Homo sapiens: one gene and its partners. The protein of the gene in region 2 purifies or fractionates together with the protein of the main gene of each other region. This does not show direct contact. Each region holds a gene or a part of one and is shown on either strand. Other genes may lie near its edges. The genes, in order: ZDHHC5, CAST, LZIC and PPME1.

Evidence for each region.
Region 1: the proteins of CAST (region 2) and ZDHHC5 purify together in Homo sapiens (co-immunoprecipitation; one large-scale study listed by IntAct). This does not show direct contact.
Region 3: the proteins of CAST (region 2) and LZIC fractionate together in Homo sapiens (co-fractionation; one large-scale study listed by BioGRID). This does not show direct contact.
Region 4: the proteins of CAST (region 2) and PPME1 fractionate together in Homo sapiens (co-fractionation; one large-scale study listed by BioGRID). This does not show direct contact.

What each region holds. Positions count from the first base shown.
Region 1 is NC_000011.10:57,691,184-57,696,762, reverse strand, and holds part of ZDHHC5 (palmitoyltransferase ZDHHC5), read right to left. Parts: intron 4,153-5,579; coding exon 4,061-4,152; intron 2,981-4,060; coding exon 2,848-2,980; intron 844-2,847; coding exon 720-843; intron 3-719; coding exon 1-2. UniProt on the Homo sapiens protein: Palmitoyltransferase that catalyzes the addition of palmitate onto various protein substrates such as CTNND2, CD36, GSDMD, NLRP3, NOD1, NOD2, STAT3 and S1PR1 thus plays a role in various biological processes including cell adhesion, inflammation, fatty acid uptake, bacterial sensing or cardiac functions.
Region 2 is NC_000005.10:96,769,216-96,773,698, forward strand, and holds part of CAST (calpastatin), read left to right. Parts: intron 1-1,315; coding exon 1,316-1,387; intron 1,388-2,428; coding exon 2,429-2,464; 3' UTR 2,465-2,487; intron 2,488-3,424; 3' UTR 3,425-4,483.
Region 3 is NC_000001.11:9,924,313-9,929,891, forward strand, and holds the end of LZIC (protein LZIC), read right to left. Parts: 3' UTR 1,981-5,579; downstream 1-1,980.
Region 4 is NC_000011.10:74,176,489-74,182,067, forward strand, and holds part of PPME1 (protein phosphatase methylesterase 1), read left to right. Parts: intron 1-5,579. UniProt on the Homo sapiens protein: Demethylates proteins that have been reversibly carboxymethylated. Demethylates PPP2CB (in vitro) and PPP2CA. Binding to PPP2CA displaces the manganese ion and inactivates the enzyme.

The DNA of each region.
Region 1 (5,579 bases), on a different chromosome or scaffold from region 2:
ATCTGCAAGAAAAAAGGCCAAGGGGGCACTATTTTACAAGCGGTTTTTTGGTTTAAGAGACAGGGTCTCACTCTACTGTCCAAGCTAGAGTGCAGTGGCACGATTATAGCTCACTGGAGCCTTGAACTCCTGGGCTCCCACCTCAGCCTCCTGAGTAGCTGGGACTGCAGGCATATGCCACCATGCCCAGCTAACTTTTTTAAATTTTTTGTAGAGACAGAGTCTTGCTATGTTGCCCAGGGTGGTCTTGAACTCCTGGGCTCAAGCAATCCTCCTGCGTTGGCCTCCCAAAGTGCTGGGATCACAGGTGTGAGCCACTGCGTCTAGTCTATGAGTTGTTCACTTTATCTGCCTAGGGTTCCTTAAGTACAGGGAGAGGACAAGGTAGGAATAGATATACCCTTCGCTGAAATCAAGACTTTTAAAGACTCACACCAGCCCAGAATTCAGGGTGGGTAAATGCACCAAAAAGGTTCTGTGATGTTCTCTGGTCTGCCTAGAGGCTGACCATTTTCCCGGCAAAAGTCCCATTCACTGCCAATAGCTAAATGGCCTCTCTTCTCTTTCAGTTGCAAAGTAGCACAAGTACCAACTGTTGGGTGTTTAAAGTCACAACACGAGTAATATCTCCCAGCCCTTGCCTGTCTTCCACAGCTCATAAGCAACCTTCTCAATCCTGCCCCTAGTTCTAGTATCTTGCAAATCAAGGCAGCCCTTACCCTCATTAGTAGCCAAGCCGAGGTGTGTTCGCAACCCTGTGTAACGGCTCAGGTCTGGCTTAGGAGGAGGTGGAGGTTCAGCATCTGCAGACTGGCTCTCTGTTATCTCCAGGCTTCCCTTAGACTGGATTGATGAAGGGAGGGAAAATCAGATTTAGAAATTGAGCATTATGGCAACTCAAAGTATTAAATTGATATAAGAGGGAGGTATTTGGGAGTCAATTCTCATGTATTTTTTTTTTTTTTTTGAGACAAGGTCTCACTCTGTTGACCAGGCTGGAGTACAGTGGTACGCATGATCATGTTCACTGCAGCCTGCAACTCCTAGGCTCAAGTGCTCTTCCCACCTCAGCCTCCCAAGTAGCTGGGATTACAGGCACATGCCACCACACCCAGTTAATTTATTTTACTTTATTTTGTAGAGATGGGGGTCTCGCCATGTTGCCCAAGCTGGTCTTGAACCCCTGGCCTCAAGCAATATCACCCCACCTTGGCCACCCTAAATGTTGGGATTATAGACATGAGCCACTGCCTATCATATATTTCTCAACTATACTGGAAGACAAGGCACAAGAATCAGTTTGGGTATAGCATTAGATGAAGAAAAGTTGGGTTTTTTTTTTTGAAATGGAGTCTTGCTCAGTCACCCAGGCTGGAGTGCAGTGGCGTGATCACGGCTCATTGCAACCTCTGGCTCGCAGGTTCAAGCGATTCTCATGCCTCAGCCTCCCAAGCAGCTAGGATTACAGGCATGTGCCACCACACCTGGCTAATTTTTTTTTGAGATGGAGTTTCGGTCTTGTTGCCCAGGCGGAGTGCAATGGCATGATCTCGGCTCACTGCAACCTCCGCCTCCCGGGTTCAAGCAATTCTCCTACCTCAGCCTCCCAAGTAGCTAGGACTACAGGCATGCGCCACCATGCCCAGCTAATTTTGTATTTTTAATAGAGACAGGGTGTCTCCATGTTGGTCAGGCTGGTCTCGAGCTCCCAACCTCAGGTGATCCACCCACCTCAGCCTCCCAAAGTGTTGGGATTACAGGCATAAGCCACTACGCCCAGCCAGAAAATTTTTCTATTTTTTATTTTAGTCTGTTTTAGAGATGGAGTCTCGCTATGTTGTCCAGGCTGGTCTTGAGCTCCTGAACTCAAGCGATCTTCCCACCTCAGCCTCGCTAAGTGCTGGGATTATAGGCATGAGTTACTGTACCTGGCAGAAGAAAGGGTTTAAAAAAGGTTTTAATTCTGTCACTTATTTGCCCATTTAAACCAACAACTACTTGTTTAGCTCCTACCATCTAGCTGTAAGCTGTTAAGTCCTATGAAGACATGGAAATGAATGAATTCATTTTCTATTGTTAATGAACTTAAAGTCTAATGTAGGGCCGGGTGCAGTGGCTCACACCTATAATCCTAGCATTTTGGGAGGCTGAGGGGGTTGGATCACTTCAGGTCAGGAGTTTGAGACCAGCCTAGCCAACATAGGAAAACCCTGCCTCTACTGAAAATAAAAAAATTAGCCAGGCGTGGTGGCGCATGCCTGTAGTCCCAGCTACCCAGGTGGCTGAGGCACGAGAATCGCTTGAACCTGGGAGGCAGAGGTTGCAGTGAGCTGAGATCATACCACTGGAGTCCAGCCTAGGTAACAGAGCAAGACTCCCTCTCAAAAAAAAAAATCTAATGTAGAAAACAAGATTTGTATTTAAGTAATTTTAACCCAAATTAGTAAGTGATAAACACTGTAAGAAATATGGGCCAGGCGTGGTGGCTCATGCTTGTAATCCTAGCACTTTGGGAGGCCGAGGTGGGCAGATCACCTGAGGTCAGAAGTTCGAGACCAGCCTGGCCAACATGGCAAAACCCCATCTCTACTAAAAATACAAAAATTAGCCAGGCAAGGTGACGGACACCTGTAATCCCAGCTACTCGGGAGGCTGAGGCAGGAGAATTGCTTGAACCTGGGAGGCAGAGTTTGCACTGAGCACCACTGCACTCCAGCCTGGGCAACAGAGCAAGACTCTGTCTCAAAAAAAAAAAAAAAAACACAAAGGAAACTAAAGCAAGCTTCCGTCTCTTTGCCTTGGGTGAGACTTCCATGTTATCTAGCTTGACTTCTCTAAATTCCTCACCTTTGTTCTCCTCAGCTCTCCCTGGATGCCATTATCCATGATCTTCACAGTTATCTGCCCATCTGAAACTTCTGGTCGAAGGAAGGGAGGTCTGATTACAATTGTCTTCTCTTTCTTTGGTCTCCCCAAATACCTAAGTGTCGAGAGAGAGAGAGAGAGAGACACAGCGAGAGAGCTTTCATTCATTTATATTTTAAAGTATCTACTGTTTCTGTAAACCATTTTTATTAGGTTGGTAAAAAAGTAATTGCAGTTTTGGCCATCACTTACTTAGCAATAAACAGAATTGATTCTGTGAAGGACTGCAGCAGGACTAGGCCTTTGTGAGCAGATACCTAGCTCAAGGAAAGCACTTTAGAGTGTATCTTATTCACCCTCAATTCTCAAAGATTTACCTTAATACCTGAAGAATATCAATGGAATTCACAGTGTCCACTAAAGCAGGGGTCCCCAACCCCTGGGCCGCAGACCAGTACCGGTTCATGGCCTGTTAGGAACTGGGCCACATAGCAGGAGGTAAGCAGTGGGCCAGTGAGCATTATCACCTGAGCTCCATCTCCTGTCAGATCAGCGGAGGCATTAGATTCTCTTAGGAGCGCAAACCCTAGAACCCTGTTGTAAACTACACATGCAAGCAATCTAGGTTGTATGTGTGCTCTGAGCTCACTGCAACCTCTGCCTCCTGGGTTCAGGCAATTATCCTGCCTCAGCCTCCCAAGTAGCTGGGATTACAGGTGCCTGCCACCTTGCCCAGCTAATTTTTGTATTTTGAGTAGAGAAGGGGTTTCACCATATTGGCCAGGCTGGACTTGAACTTCTGACCTCAAGTGATTCGCCCACCTCGGCCTCCCAAAGTGCTGGGTGTGAGCCGCCACACCCAGCCATGAGAATCTAATGCCTCATGATCTGAGGTGGAACAGTTTCATCCTGAAACCACCCCACCCCAGCCCCCATCTGTGGAAAAAGTGTCTCCCATGAAACCGGTCCCTGCTGCCAAAAAGGTTAGGGACCACTGCACTAAAGGATGGGCATGTAGGTACTTACCATTCTAAGATAGACTACTTACCATTCTAAGATAGAGTGGGTACTTAACATTCTAAGATAGAGAACCCTTCCTAAAGGCTCTCACCAGACCCCTCCTTTACCAGAACAAGCCCAAAGAAGATAAAAGTTCTGACCAATGGTAAACACTAGACCAGAGGGATAGGTGTACCTGGGTGCTGGAGAACTGCAGAGAACACGGCTGACATTGTTACAGCAGCCATTGGTGAAGGGGTTCACACCTCCCCGGAATTTACCCGTAACCTAGAGGGAGAAAAAAAATACCAGGTTAGAAGATGAGACCTTGACTTCCAAAGGCCAAAATACAAATCTATTACAAGTTATTGTGCACTCACTATCTGAGGGCTATGCAAATGAGTAAAACACAAGAAATTTATATATGTTATGGTTAAGAGCAGGGAATCTACAGTCAGGGTCCTTAGTTCAAATCCTAGGTCTACCTCATGGTTGCTGACCCAAAACCTCAGTTTCCTCATGTAAAATGGGATAGCTTTCTAAATATTGAAAACTAAGATAAAGAATAAGCAATTAAGGGCTGGGCATGGCAGCTCACACCTGTAATCCCAGCACTTTGGGAGGCTGAGGCAGGTGGATCACCTGAGGTCCGGAATTTGAGACCAAACTGGCCAACATGGCAAAACCCCATCTCTACTATAAAAATATATAAAAACTAGCCGGGCATGGTGTCAGGCACCTGCAATCCCAGCTACTTGGGTAGCTGAGGCAGGAGAATTGCTTGAAGCCAGGAGGCAAAGGTTGCAGTGAGCCGAGATCGTGCCACTGCGCCCCAGCCAGTGGGCTCCAGCCAGTGGGCTCCAGCCTGGGTGACAAAGCGATACTCTGTCTCAAAAAAGAAAAAAAAAAAGCAATTAAGGTTAGCTACTATTATATGCACAAAAATCATTGCTTTCCTGTAAGCAGCACTATAAGCTTCTTGAGGGCTAGCCTAAGTCTTTCATTGTTTCTATAAACTCAGAGCCTAAATTCTCCAGTATCCAGTGGGCATATAGTAAATGTCTGTTAACTAAGAAGTGGCCTCTATTCTTTTTTTTTTTTAGGAAGATCTTAAATATTTATATGTATATGAACATATATGTACATATACATATGTCTTGCTACACTTTAAATTTAAAAATCTATTAATATGATTTTTGACAAACTAAAGAAAGAATACTATTATTTGGATACCAAGTTCTATGGTGAGTATTGTTTAAAAAACTATCATCTTATTCTTTATGCTATATTGTCTAGTTTCAGTTTGGTTTGGGTCTCTCAATTGATATTTCAGGTGATGATGCCAAACCATCCAAGACTTTCTTTGGAGATAGATATTATTTTGTTATAAAATATATTTTTAGGCTGGGCGCAGTGGCTCATGCCTGTAATCCCTGCACTTTGGGAGGCCGAGGTGGGCGGATCACGAGGTCAAGAGATCGAGACCATCCTGGCTAACATGGTGAAACCCCGTGTCTACTAAAATTACAATAAATAAATAAATAAATAAAAGATATTTTAGCACTTTGGGAGGCTGAGGTGGGTGGATCACCTGAGGTCGGGAGTTCGAGACCAGCCTGGCCAACATGGTGAAACCCTGTCTCTACTAAAAATACAAAAATTAGTTGGGCGTGGTGATGCACATCTGTAATCTCAGCTACTTGGGAGCCTGAGGC
Region 2 (4,483 bases):
ATACTGGGTAGCTTAATTTCTAGACCACTTCAGCATCCTATCTCTCACCCCTGGTAACTCGTAAGTAATGCCTTTTTTGGTGAATGGACTTTATTTTTATACGTAACCTGCTCCAGCTTTCCTCGGTTGTTTCCCATTGTTCATTTCTCTCCCATAACACTGAAAACAGGGTTTTTTTTTGTTTTTTTTTTTTTGCCTTTTGGTACACAAAAGCCAGTCCTGATCGAGACAAGCTCTATTTTGTTTTTTAAATACATTTTATTGTGTATATTTGAGGTTTACAACATGGTAGTTTGGGATGCATAGAAATAATAAAATGGTTACTGTAGGGAAGCAGATTTACATATCTATCATTCTCACACAACTACTTTTTGTGACAAAAGCAGCTAAAATCTACTTAGTTAACAAAATCCCTAATACAATTTTATTAACCTTAGTCCTCATGTTATACATTAACTCTCTACACTTGTTCATTCTGCATATCTGCTATTTTGTATCCTTTGACCTATATCTCTGTTTCCTCCTCCTGTTCCCTACCATGGTCGCCATGTTTTATTCTCTGTGTTTTTGAGCTTTTTCTTTTATATATATTCTACATATAAGTGAAATCACTTTTCTTTCTGTGTCTGGCTTATATCATCTAGTATAAGGTCTTCCAGGTCCATCCATGTTGTGACAAATAGTAGGATATCGTTTTTTAAGGCTGAATAATATTCCATTATGTATATATACATGACATTTTCTTTATCCATTCATCAACAACTAGGTTGTTCCATATCTTGGCTATTGTGAGTAATGTTGCAGTGAATATGGGAGTGCAGATATCTTTATAAGGTGATAATTTCATCTCCTTTGGGTATATACCCAGAAGAGGGATTACTGGGTCATACAGTAGTTCTACTTTTAATTTCTTTAGGAACCTATATACTGTTTTCCATCATAGCCCATACCAATCTACATCCCCACTGACAGTGTACTAGGGTTCCCTTTTCTCCACACCCTTGCCGACATTTATTATCTATTGACAAGCTCTGTTTTGATTAGCAAAATAAGGTCTGGGTGAGTCAGGCACCACGGGAATTAGAGCATCAATGTCACCCACATTTCCCTCCTTATTTCTATCCTTTTTCCCTCCTGCTTTAAACAATTCTCTGACACCGTTGTTCAAAAAAAATCATGAAAAAACACCCAAAGTCTTCCATTATTTAATTAAATTGGAGATCTCAGAATGGTCTGGATTAATTTAACTGCAGCCTAGTTAATTGCTAGATGGATTGGTGATAGCCATAGCCTCATTACATTTCCTTTGCTTTAGGATAAGTGCAAGAAGGCTGCTTCCAGCTCCAAAGCACCTAAGAATGGAGGTAAAGCGAAGGATTCAGCAAAGGTAAATGGAGCAGTAAATATACTACAAATTAGTTTAGCAGTTACACAGAGTAGGGTTTATCATTTCAGTCATTTAGTTTCCTACTGGAATCTATTTAGAATAAAATTTCTTAAAGTACTATCTATCCCATAGCATCGCTTGGTAAAGTAATTGAATTTGTATAAATACATATATTTTTAAGTAACTGGTGCTTTAAAATCCTAAATGAATGTTCTTGACACAACCCAATTTGCCTGTGTTTTGCCTGTCTTTCTTGCCCTAATTAAAATACCACCATAGTATGTGGTTTATATAGATTTTAGAACATGGAAGTTGGAAACTTCCTATTATTAAAATTACTCAAGCTGTGATGAGAAATGAAAATTGGATTAGACAACTTCTAGGTCCCTTCCAATTCCAAGAACATATGATTTAAATGATTATTACTATGATCCCCTGGCTATAAGGAGGAGTTAAAGGTGTAGCTTTAAAGACAATAGTCCAGTTACACCAAAGCTTTTAAAACAATATATTAAAATCTTCCTGTAGTAGATTCCCTTAAGGGATATAGGAAACAGCATTGATAATTGGCAGTTATGCCATTATATCTCAGTTTAAATACTTATTTGCCTATTATTTAATTTCAGTTATACGAAGTACTTAATCAGCCCTTTAACAAATAATAGAAAGCATAATAACCCTTTATGATGAGTGGATTTACTGGACAGCCATGACCCTATGTACAGGAAAGGAAGGATCACCACAGAATGAAACATTGCCATTTAAGAACACCTATGCATATTTTATAACCTACCCTAGCCTTAAAAAAATAAAGCTGAGAGTGATACATTTAGGATCAGGATCACTTAAGGTTATTTTTAGCTTATAAGCTTGAGGAGGAAGAACTCACAATATTGTGGCCAGATGAAGAAGAGAAACTGAAAGGACCATCTTATTTTTCCCCACTGACTGCCATCTTTTGTCCCCTAATTCTGAGAAGGCCATCTCCTCATACTTAATACAGAAAAGAAAGCTCACGGATGGTTTTGCTTTCCCTTTTAGACAACAGAGGAAACTTCCAAGCCAAAAGATGACTAAAGAAATACAAGTTAAGGTATCTGGTAAGTTGGGTGTTTATTTGTAAATGAAGACAACTGTATCTTCTGCCAATTTATGTGTTATAGATGAGAGAAGTGAAGTCCACCTCTTGAGTAATTCATGCTCACTTTACAGTATTGGCATGAAATGCATACTGCAAGATCTACAGAGTAATTGGTCATTCTCTGAAAGCACTAAATGGGATGAGTTTGCTATTGAAATGTTTAAAAACCTTAATCTTATAATTAAAAGCTTTTAAAAATATTAGGCCAGGCACTTAGAATGACCATCTGAGGCTAGTTGAATCTTTGAAATCCAAATGCTCATTACTGCAGGTTATTGTGGCAAAGCAAAATTAGCATGTTACAACTTAGCGAAATGTCCTGAAGACATTGGCATTCCCCAGAATACCAATACATGGTGGGGTGGGGAGAAGTACCCTTTAGAGTCTGGTGGAAATTACAGGGTTTTGGGAACAAGGGCAAAGGAAAAGATTGGCCATTTTTATTTGTCATTATTTTGGAAAGTAAAGTACTGTGTTTGATTCTAATTTATAATTGCTGAAGAAACTGGACAGATTGAAGGGATTTCTGAGATCTTCAGAACTGGGCCCTTATCTTAATCTTCAGAAAGGAGAGGGCTTAATGTAAGCCTTAAAAGCATACAAGCACTTACTGACCAAAGCCTAAAAGAAATCAAAGTATAGGTTAAATCGGGTTCAGCTCTCTCACCATGATCCATGTTTATTTCCTAGGAAAAAAGGAGCTATATTAGGTAGAACTGCTCTAACATTTTTCCCAAAATTAAAAAAAATTCTATTAATCCACTTTCATGTTTACTTATAGGAAATTCCTTCTGTCTGTTATACAATGCTTTTGCTAAGTGGTATATTTACTATGTCTGTAACAAGAAAATTACATATTAAATGATTCACTGCATTTTTTATTTGAAATTTTTAAGGTATCTGCATGTAAAATCTTCAGCTGGTGGATGGTGACTTTTGAAGAACAAAAGGCTTTGGCAACAGAAAACAATTGTTCTGGGTGATTTCTAGAATGGTTTTTGTTGAGTCTCTGAACATCCTAAATATTGGTTTGTTATTCTTTTCCAGAAAGAAAATGAATTTGACTGGTTCACCTGTGTACTGAGTATTGATAAACTTTGAATTTTTTTAATTGCCTTCAATTGGGAGAGAAAGCTTTATATTTGTAAGAAATATATTTGATAAAGTTTCTTAAAGCAACACCAAAAAAACAAAAGAAAAGCTAAGTGAATTTTTGCACATTCTACACACAGTGCCTGTAAATCTCATTTGTATTTTCAGTTTGCCCTTAATTTTTTTTGTTAGTGTTTAGAAAACAATGTTTTAAACATTCTTCAGTGTTCTGATTTCTTATTACCCCCTTTCCTCTTGGGCTTTTGAACTGTATTTGATGTTGCTTTGGGATAATGTTTATAAGTCAAACATAAGATATTGTACATTGGGCACATATCTCCTCTTGGGCTGCTAATAATAAATTAATAACAGGTAACCTGGACAAACCAGGAAGCACCAAACCCCTTTTCAGTTTGAACTCTTCTTTGCCAGGTGTGAGGACTTCTGCATCTTACAGTCAGCACAGAACACACTGAGACTTGAATCAAGTCAGCAACAGAGCAAAATAAAGGTTAGATAAGTCCTTGTGTAGCAAATTTCGAGCATAAGAAATAAAATCTAATTAATTCTTAGGGTACTCATCTGACTTGAACTCTGTTGGTTTACTGTGTTAGTAAACTGTGCTTTCTATTATCTATACATAAAACCTGAGCAGCAACTGTGTCTTTAGAGCTATTGCCACATTAGCCTTTGCACTGTATAGCGTCTGGCTTTATGGAACTTAAGTTTACCAAATATAAAAAGAAACTTCTGCTTTTAAAAAAATTATATATATATATTAAATTTGAAACCTGCATTTCTCCCACAGCAATGTAAGAAGTAGGCTCTGATGTCCTACCACTTTGAATGGTTTTCTAATATCT
Region 3 (5,579 bases), on a different chromosome or scaffold from region 2:
AAAAAAAAGGCTCTATCCAATATCCATATTATTTTATTTTATTTATTTATTTATTTTTTTGAGACGGAGTCTTGCTCTGTCACCCAGGCTGGAGTGCAGTGGCGCGATCTCAGCTCACTGCAACCTCCGCCTCCCGGGTTCAAGCGATTCTCCTGCCTCAGCCTCCCAAATAGCTGGGACTACAGGCGCATGCCACCATGCCCAGCTAATTTTTTGTATTTTTACTAGAGATGGGGTTTCACCGTGTTAGCCAGGATAGTCTCCATCTCCTGACCTTGTGATCCGCCCACCTCCACCTCCCAAAGTACTGGGATTATAGGCGTGAACCACCGTGCCCGGCCTAATTTTTGTGTTTTTTTGTAGAGATGGCATTCCGCCACATTGCTCAGGCTGGCTCTGTTTTCAATCTGGCCTGGTTAATGAGTATTGAAGGAATAATGTTGGGGAAAAAACAACAACAACAAAATTAAGCTCCTTTAGTAGTAAAGAATAGCCTCGTGTAATATGACAATTTAGTAGTGACCAAAAAACAGTACCTGACCTGCTACGATGTTTTACAGGAAATAGACAAGGTAGCAGAAACTCTCAAACCAAGTCATAACTGTAACACAGCTCAGCAGGAGGTTTTGCAGGGGGGGCTTCAAAATTCAGTTACAGTCGCCAGAGGCTGAGGCAGAGGATCTGTGGCTGATGTATCATCTTAGAAATAACCCTTACCACCGGGCGCAGTGGCTCACGCCTGTAACCCCAGCACTTTGGGAGGCCGAGGTGGGCAGATCACCTGAGGTCGGGACTTTGAGACCAGCCTGGCCAACATGCAGAAACCCCATCTCTACTAAAAATACAAAAAAAAAAAAAAAAAAATTAGCTGGACATGGTGGCGCATGCCTGTAATCCCAGCTACTCAGGAGGCTGAGGCAGGAGAATTGCTTGAACCCTGCGGCAAGCCGAGATCGGGCCATTGCACTCCAGCCTGGGCAACAAGAACGAAACTCCGTCTCAAAAACAAACAAGCAAACAAACAAAAAACCCTTACCAGCATTATCTTCACTCTAAAAAACAAACACACAGAAAAACTTGATGGCTCTCCTTGACTTCTTTTATAATAAATGATATTTTTGCTGGTTTATTTTTAATTGTATTCAACTGCCTGAGGCTGTAAGCAATAAGCAGTGTGATTTTCTGGTAGAAAAATAACCAAGCATTTAGGAAGCTTCCAGTTGACAGCCTCAGACCTCTCAACTTTGCTGAAGCTCTTCAACAGTATCGACTTTCCATTGTGAACTCTTTTTTTTTGAGACAGAGTCTCCTCTGTCGCCCAGGCTGGAATGCAGTGACAAGATCTTGGCTCACTACAACCTCTGCCTCCCAGGTTCAAGTGATTCTCCTGCCTCAGCCTCCTGAGTAGCTGGGATTACAGGCACACGCCACCACACCTGGATAACTTTTGTATCTTTAGTAGAGACAGGGTTTCACCATATTGGCCAGGCTGGTCTTGAACTCCTGACCTTGTGATCTGCCCACCTTGGCCTACCAAAGTGCTGGGATTACAGGCATGAGCCACCACTCATGCCTTTTTTTTTTTTTTTTTTTTTTTTTGAGATGGAGTCTTGCTCTGTTGCCCAGGCTGGAGTGCAGTTGTGCAATCTCGGCTCACTGCAAGCTCCGCCTCCCGGGTTCACGCCATTCTCCTGCCTCAGCCTCCTGAGTAGCTGGGACTACAGGCGCCCGCCACCACGCCCAGCTAATTTTTTGTATTTTCAGTAGAGACAAGGTTTCACCATGTTAGCCAGGATGGTCTCGATCTTATGATCTGCCCGCCTCCGCCTCCCAAAGTGCTGGGATTACAGGTGTGAGCCACGGCGCCCTGCCGACAGTTTTAATTTACATACTAATGCTGGAAAACATTTTGGAAGGCAAAGAAGAACATTCACTGGTCTTAGCAATAAATAGAATAAAAAAGAAAAACGTGGACAGAAAGGTGGTTGAAAGGCTCTAGGCAAAATGGTCTGGGTTTATTTTTTTCTATAGTAATTTCAGATTATCCATCATTCACTGTAATAAGATACCATTTCAGTGGTGGAGTTGCATAGTCTTTTATTTTTCTAAAGATGACCATTCCATGTTTAATGTCTTCAGAGAAGATCTAAAAATCAAAGTTAACAACCCATTTGTCCCAACTCTAACTCTTCCTGGGAACAATTCCTCATTCTGTTACTTGATTTCTTCCTTTACCACCCACATAAAATATGTCTTACTGCTCACAAGATCAAAAGAAAACAGAACAAAACATTGAAACATCAGAATTGTTTAAAACACTAGATTTCATTCAATGGTCCGATTGGACACTTGCTCATTGGAACTTATTTCTGCTTCAGCTCTAGTTCTTTGAGAAACACAAGAATTCCTTTCACCAAAATATTAGCCTGACACAAGAATGTTGAAAGGTTAGCTGCCTTAGCTTTATTGCTGCCTATAATCTCCAAAGATATCTGAACACCTAGAAGATTAAATGTAGCAAGAAGTGGAAGAGAAACACAGTTTATAAGTCATTTAATAACTATAATTGCATAGAATTTACTCACTTTTCAAATACTTATTCTGAATGAATACCAAATTTGTGAAACAAAATATATCCTATGGTGCTTAGAATGGTTGTTAAATGGTGAGTTAGTTTTCCAAGTAAAAACTTTACGTGCATTAACAGAGGGGAATGCATAATAATCCTATGAGGTAGGCCCTATTATCCTCATTGAATAGAAGAGAAAAGGAGGCTCAAAAAAATTAAGTAACCCACAAAAAGTCACACAGCTGTGACTGTCAGTGTCCTGCTGGGCACTGCAAACTAGGCCACTTTTAAAGTAAGATCATTTTAAATTGAGTACTCTTACTTACAAAATGAACACATTAATGTGATAATTGACAAAATATTTCAGATGCTGGACTTATAGAAAGTTTAAGGAAAACCAAGATTAAGGATTCCAGATTCAGGTAACTCTCTTTATCTTTTTTTTAGACAGGGGTCTCACTTTGTCAGCCAGTACAGTGGCGTGATCTCAGTTCACTGCAACCTCTGCTTCCCAGGTTCAGGTGATCCTCTGACCTCAGCTTCCTGAGTAGCTGGGACCACAAGTGCATGCCATCACGCCTGGCTAATTTTTTTTTTTTTTTTAGAGACAGGGTTTCACCATGTTGGCCAGGCTGGTCTCAAATCCTGAGTTCAGGCGATCCGCCCACCTCTGCCTCCCAGAGTTCTGAGATTACATGCGTGAGCCACTGTGCCAGGCATTAGGTCCCTTTCAAATTCAAGATATTCCTAATTTTTCTGGTCTACTATTGCAGGGTAAGGGAAGAATCTTCTTCCTCTTTTTTTTTTTTTTTTTTTTTTTGAGACCGTGTCTCAGTCTGTCGCCCAGGCTGGAGTGCAGTGGCGCCATCTCGGCTCACCGAAACCTCTGCCTCCCAGGTTCAAGTGATTCTCCTGCCTCAGTCTCCCAAGTAGCTGAGACTACAGGCACCTGCCACTATGCCTGGCTAATTTTTGTAGAGATGGAGTTTCACTGTGTTGGCCAGGCTGGTCTTGAGCTCCTGATCTTGTGATCCGCCCGCCTTGGCCTCCTGAAGTGCTGGGATTACAGGTGTGAGCCACTGTGCCCGACTGGTGGGAAGAATCTTCTATGGCTTAAAAAACAAACGTAGGCTGGGTGTGGTGGCTCAGGCCGGGTATGGTGGCTCATGCCTGTAATCATCCCAGCACTCTGGGAGGTTGAGGCGGGTGGATCACCTAAGGTCAGGAGTTCGAGACCAGCCTGACCAACATGGAGAAACCCCATCTCTACTAAAAACACAAAATTAGCCAGGTGTGGTGGCGCATGCCTTAATCCCAGCTACTCGGGAGGCTGAGGCAGGAGAATCGCTTGAACCTGGGAGGCAGAAGTTGTGGTGAGCCGAGATCACGCCATTGCACTCCAGCCTGGGCAACAGAGTGAAACTCCATCTCAAAAAACAACGACAACAACAACAACACAACAACAAACGCAGCAATTCCATTCCTAGGTGTACACCCAAAAAAATTGAAAACAGGTATTCAAACAAATATTTGTACACAAATGTTCACTGAAGCATTATTCACAATAGCCAAAAGAAGGAAACAACCCAAATCATCAACAGATACCGGATAAACAAAATATGATATCCATACAATGGAATATTATTTAGCCATAAAAAGGAATAAAGTACTGATACATGCTATAATGTTGGTTAAACTTGAAAATATGATGATGTCCCGGTGTGGTAGCTCACACCTATAATCCCAGCACTTTGGGAGGCCGAGGCAGTTGGATCACCTGAGGTCAGCTCAGGACCAGCTGGGCCAACATGGTGAAACCCTGTCTCTATACTAAAGGTACAAAAATTAGCTGGGCGTGGTGGTACACACTAGTAATCCCAGCTACTTGGGAAGCTGAGGCAGGAGAATCTCTTGAACCTGGGAGGCGGAGGTTGAGATTGCGCCATTGCACTCCAGCCTGGGCAATAAGAGTAAAACTCTGTCTCAAAAAAAAAAAAAAAAAGAAAAGAAAATATTATGCTAAGTGAAAGAAGCCAGATACATAAAAAGGTCACATATCATATGATTCCATTTATATGAAATATCCAGAATAGGTAAATCCACAGAGACAGGGTGCAGATTAGTGGCTATTGTTAGCAGTCGGAGGAGAAGGGAATGGGGACTAACTGCTTAATAGGTATAGGGCCTCCTTTGGGGGTGATAAGAATGTTCTGCAACTAGAGAGTAGTGATGGTTGCACACCACTGTAAATGTTCTGCCAACGAATGGTACACTTTAAAATGGTGAATTTTATGATATATGAATTTCACCTCTTTTAAGTTCCAAATAAGGCATCAGTGTAGCGGAGGTCCTCTAATCTGTCTGGTTGGCAAAGCACCTAGTAGTTTACAGTACAGAAGAAGCTTTAAAAATGCTTTTAATTTGTATAAAGTGCAAAGAAAAAGAATATTGAGAAGCACATGAAAGAATATAAAATGGCTAGAGCCTAAAAAATAAGCTAATATACACGCATAGGGACACATCTGCATATTTGAGCATACAGAGACATGTAAATACTCAGGAGAGAAATTTGCTTTTCCTCATAACTTATTTTGTGTTTCTCCAAAACCTGAAGAGTAGATAACAGCTGACAGTTACCCCCCTCTGAGTGTGACAAGAGGTCACGCACAGGGAGGGCCTCTAGCTGCCATTTCCTGTTGCTTCCCTGGTCAAACAACGCAGGCGGCTAAGTCACTTTAGGAAACGCTCAACAGGGCTCCCATTGTTCCAACCTCAAAATTCCGAGATACAACGGGCCCCATTAATACAGACAGCTTACAGGCTGGGGGATGGTCCCTTAGTGTGCAGTCCACTTTTTATTGGGACACTGAATTTTCAAAAACACTGACTTGCACAAATAGTGTTAATTATTTTTTTTAAATGGTACAGAAATAAAATTCAAAAGATACTAAACTGGGAGTCAGGACACCTGAGTCTTACCCTCAGCTCTCTGATGCGACTTTAAGCAAAG
Region 4 (5,579 bases), on a different chromosome or scaffold from region 2:
AATTCACTCTTTTAAATGTACAATTCAGTGATTTTTGGTATATTCACTCAGTTGTACAATTACCACCACTAATTGCAGAACATTTTCATCCTCCCATAAACTCGTTACTCATTAGCATCTTCCCTTCCTCCCAGCATGTATTGCTTCTGGATCTTGAGTCACAGAAAGGCTTTTCCTTTTTTTGGGTTATAAAGGAATCATTTATATTTTTTCCTGGTACCTGTGTAGTGTCCTTTTTTTTTTTTTTTTTTTTTTTGAGACAGAGTCTTGCTCTGTCACCGAGGCCGGATGGAGTGCAGTGGTGTGATCTTGGCCCACTACAACCTCCACTTCCCGGGTTCAGGCGATTCTCCTGCTTCAGCCTCCCAAGTAGCTGGGATTACAGGCATGCACCACCACACCCAGCTAATTTTTGTATTTTTAGTAGAGACGGGGTTTCATTATGTTGGCCAGGCTGCTCTTGAACTCCTGGCCCCAGGTAATCCACCCACCTCAGCCTTCCAAAGTGCTGGGATTACAGGCATGAGCCAATTTTTTTTTAATCCATTTGAAGTTTATCTTGATATGCAAAGTGAGGAAAAGAAGACATTTTATTTTTATCCAAAGGCTATCTAGTTGTTTTCATCATTTATTAAATTTTTTAGTCCTTTACCCATTACGTAAATTTCACTACAATAAAGAAATAGTCCTGGCCAGGCTCAGTGGTCCATGCCTGTAATCCCAGCACTTTGGGAGGCCAAGGCATGTGGACCACTTGAGCTTGGGAGTTGGAGACCAGCCTGGACAACATGGTGAAACCTCTTCTCTACAAAAATCACAAAAATTTAGCTGGGTGTGGTGGTGTGTGCCTGTAGTCCCAGCTACTCTGGAGGATCATTTGAGTCCGGGAAGCAAAGGTTGCAGTGAGCCAAGATAATGCCCCTGCACTCTAGCCTGGGACACAGAGTGAGACTTTGTCTCAAAAAAAAAAAAAAAAGTCTTCTTTCTCACTGATTAAAATGACACCTTTGTCATATGCCAAATTTCTATATAAATCCGGGTCTGTGGAGTTTCTTTTACGTGCCACTACTGTACTTTTAATTAGAGGATTTATTAATATGTTTTGATGGGTGGTAGAGGTTGTTTACCCCTCATTCATTTTGAGGATTTTCGTGGTTCCTCTTGTTTTTTTCTCACAAATAAACTTTCTAATCCCATAGACTAGTGCCAGAAAAAAATCCTGATAGTATTTTTATTGGGATTACATTAAATACAAACATTAATTTAGAATAAACGTTTTTATGATGTTGAATGTTCCTTGAAGAAATATGGTATCTTTCAATTTGTATGAATCCCTTTTGAAGGAAATATATTTCAGATTCCAAGTATTGACCTAAGTTATATTCAATCTAATATTACTTAAATTCAATAGTACTCTTAAATAATTGTGAAACTCAGTAGATTTACTCTTTAAATACAATTAAGTCTACAAAAATCCCCAAACTCACATTAGCAACATTATATTGATGTGAAACAATCTAATTTGCTGTTATCAGTTTACTGTAGTTTAAACTACAAGGACATTTATTATTGATAGGATGTTCCAGGGTTCATTCAGTTGCTAAACAATTTCATTCAGGACCCAGGCTGTTTGCATCCTTTCTTTTGCCATCCTTAGAATGGTGGCTTTTCCTTCTCTTGCTTGTCACCTTATGGTTGCAGGATGGCTGCTGCCACTCTACTTCTATCTTATCTTTACAAATAAAAAGAAGCGGGGGCCAAAGTCCTTTCCTAGCTAAGCTTGTCTTTTAATTTTTTCCCAGAAATGCAAGCTCCCCAACAGATTTTTCCCTTAAGTCTTATTGTCCAGAACTGTTCACATACCCATCCTAAAACCAATCACTGGCAGTAGGGAATGGGATTAACTATGACTGGTTTAGACCAATTTTGATTCATTCCCTTGGACTGGAGGAGAGACAACAAGAGATCTCCACTAGCTGCTCAAACAAAAGTATTACAATTCTGTTAGGGAAGAGAGAGTGGGAAGTGGGCAGGTAATGTCTGGAATAGAGAATAAACAGCATCTGGCCCAAATCCTGAGGTTAACAAGTGGAGAAGCCTAATCTTCTGATTTCAACTTCCCTACTGTTTTCATTGCAGTGTAAGTATAGGAAGTAATAATCCCACCCCCAACTCCCCTGCCCCTTATTGCCAGATTTCAGCCCCTTGACATTCATTTCAGAACTTCTGAGTAAAAGTCCGTTTTTCCATTGTTGCTTATTGCCAGCAAATCTATTTCTTCTTAGTATCTCCAAAATTGGGTAATTTGCTCTTTTGTTTTATTTTAAACCTAATGAGCCTTCCATGTTATGCTACTTGATGTCAGATTTCAGAAAACATCTCTAGTTGTTTGGGAAAGACTGTTTCCTTCAAACTACAAAATAGTTTTTTTTTTTTTAAGAGAAGAAACTTTTAATTAATAGTTCTATTAAGAGGGTGGCCACACTTAGATATTCTTCAAATACAATATTGATTACAAGTTACAGGTATATTCTACCAATATATTTTGAAGATTGAATAAGAGATTATATTGAAAATTCCAATCATTTCAAACCACACCGGAAGACCGAAGTTGTTTACTTATCAGTCCTTTTCCTATATGCTTCTGTGTGTGTTTTTGGCCATAGACTTTTTCCAGGTTTAAGTAGACATCCTCTCTCTGCCACTAACAAGTTGTATGACTCTGGTCAGTTTCTCTTCCTGGGCCTCGTTATCATGGAAAGAAAGAACGCTTTGGCACCTGACGTACTTGTTTAAATCCAAGCTCCCCAGCCTGGGCAACATAGGAAAAACTTGTCTGTACTAAAACAAAACAAAACAACCAGGCATGGTGGTGCGCACCTGTTAGTCCCAGCTACTTGAGAGACTGAGATGGGAGAATCACTTGAGCCTGGGAGTTTGAGGTTGCAGTGTGCTGTGATCGTGCCACTGCACTCCAGCCTGGGAGACAGAATGAGACCCTATCTCTAAAAATAGTAATTATAAAATAAAAAGTCAAATCCAAGCTCCGGTGCTACCAAAAATGGCTCTGGGAAAGTTATTTAGTATTTCTGAGTCACCTTAAAATGAGAATACTTTAATGGTACTGTTCAAAACCATGCTTGGTACGTAATAAACACCTAGTTGTTTCCTTTCATAAAGTAAGATTTGAGTTAGATGATCTCTAACAGCATGATTCATGATGTAGTTTTTAGAATCCTGAAGTCTGCTGCTTAATGGCATGCCTTGGAGTAAGGAACACTTCAGACCTACCACAACCCTCAGCCAGCCATCTGGTTGCTTTCTTTTCATTCTCTTCAAAGTACTGCTAATAAGGACATTTTAAAAACAGTGGTGCCTTGATTTAAATAGCTGGCTGCAATTAAACTTCAGTATTTAGCCTCCACTACCAGACTCCTAGACTTTGACAGAATTTGTGACAACAAGTGATTAAGACTGCTACTGTGCCCATTCATGACTCATCAATAACTCTCTTAACAGACTTAAGCAGCCTAGATGTTGATGTGTTATTCCTATTTAGATTTGAGACATTCATGTAAAAACATACAACTTACATTTCTTGGTTATTGTTCTCTAGGCAAGGAAGGTTTTTCCTCCTTCCCTTTCTCCCCTTTCTCTCCTTCCTCCTGGCTTTCCTTAGGATTTGATCATATAATTTTGTTGGTTTTGGTCATTATCTCCTAGTAGGCATATCACATTGTAGACAAGCAGAACATTCTCTATTCTCCTTAGTCCTCTGAATTGTAATTATTGGTCAACTGTGTATTCCTCAAAACTGTTGAGGTTCATAAGGGTAGGAATTGTGTCTGAATTTTGCTGGTGCTTAGAATGCTGTCTCCTTTAGTGCTAACTGAACGAGAAACCCAAATCCTGGCCTATTTAACCCCGTTCTATAAGAACAACGTTATTTCCCCATCAGTTCCCTTAAGATGGTATAACTAGGGCTATACTGCCTTTCTCCTAAAAGCGGTTATACTTCATAGAATAATAGAATCTCTATTTCAATACCAGCTTTTAGGTAAAATGTATTGTGTTTACAATATGTTACTTTGAGATTTAAAATAATTATATGGTCGAAACTCTTGTAATAGGTCTTGTAATAGGCTTGTAATAGGTCTCATGATATGTACAGATTCAGGCTTGTTACTTTTATTTTATCAAAATTTGACAATTTATGTCTTCCTCTTTGATTCCCCAAACCTGAAAGCAAGTCCACTATTATAAGACAGCAAATGTCAATTAGCAATTATTTTCACACTAGCCTTATTTTATAGTATTCAATTTTTCTGCCCTTGCCCAATTTATCACTTATTCTCTAAGAGCGAAGACTATTTTCCAAGCACCTTCACCAAGTTTAGGGACCAGAGCAAGTGGTCCACCATTAAAGGCTAGTGTTAAAAGCGCTCCAAAGTCATGTCCTAAGCAGTGGTAATTTCCTAAGTGTTTCTTGCACTTAACAATTGCCAAGTTTATTTTGTTGGCAATGCCTTCCATTTTCTTCACTTTTTTTTTTTTTTTTTTTTTTTTTGAGACGGAGTCTCGCTTTGTCGCCCAGGTCGGACTGCGGACTGCAGTGGCGCAATCTCGGCTCACTGCAAGCTCCGCTTCCCGGGTTCACGCCATTCTCCTGCCTCAGCCTCCCGAGTAGCTGGGACTACAGGCGCCTGCCACCGCGCCCGGCTAATTTTTTTTTTGTATTTTTAGTAGAGACGGGGTTTCACCTTGTTAGCCAGGATGGTCTCGATCTCCTGACCTCATGATCCACCCGCCTCGGCCTCCCAAAGTGCTGGGATTACAGGCGTGAGCCACCGCGCCCGGCCCACTTTTTCAACTCCTATCCATCTTTAAAACTCATGAAGCACTTTCAGACTACTTTAGTTCATTCATTTGCTCTCTCTTCTCTGAGCACCTATAACAATTTTGGCATCTCCACTCATCAATTGTTTGCATTGGTATTGTACTTTTTCACTGTTACTGTGTCAGACTTATCGAAGATAATTTTATGCAGATTTTTGTGTGTTTCCTCAATAACATTTAGAACTCCTGTAGTGCAAGGACCTTTGTTTCTTTGTGCTTTCTACTGTAACACAGTTAAATGTTTTTGTAAAATTTAATTTAATGGACACATAGCACAAATTCATTTAAAATAAAGTTCTGAGGCTTTTTCTGATCAGTCCAGCTTGCACCGATTTTTCTATTTTCTGTCCTTTGGTGGCACCTGTCATTTTACCAGGAATCAGCAAACATTTTCTGTTAAAAGCCAGATAGTATTTTAGGCTTTGTGGGCCATGTTAGTCTCTGTTGCAGCTACTCAGCTCTGCTGTTTTAGAGTGAAAGTAGCCACAGACAATATGTAACTGAATGTGTCTGTGTTCTAACAACACTTTATGGACACTGAAATTTGAATTCCACATAATTTCCACATGTCATTAGTCTCTCTTCTCCCCCTGCCCTCCACCTTTTAAAAATGTAAAGATCATTCTCTGATCCTGGGCCATGCAAAAATAGGTGGTGGGCTGGATTTCCCGTAGGCTGTAGTT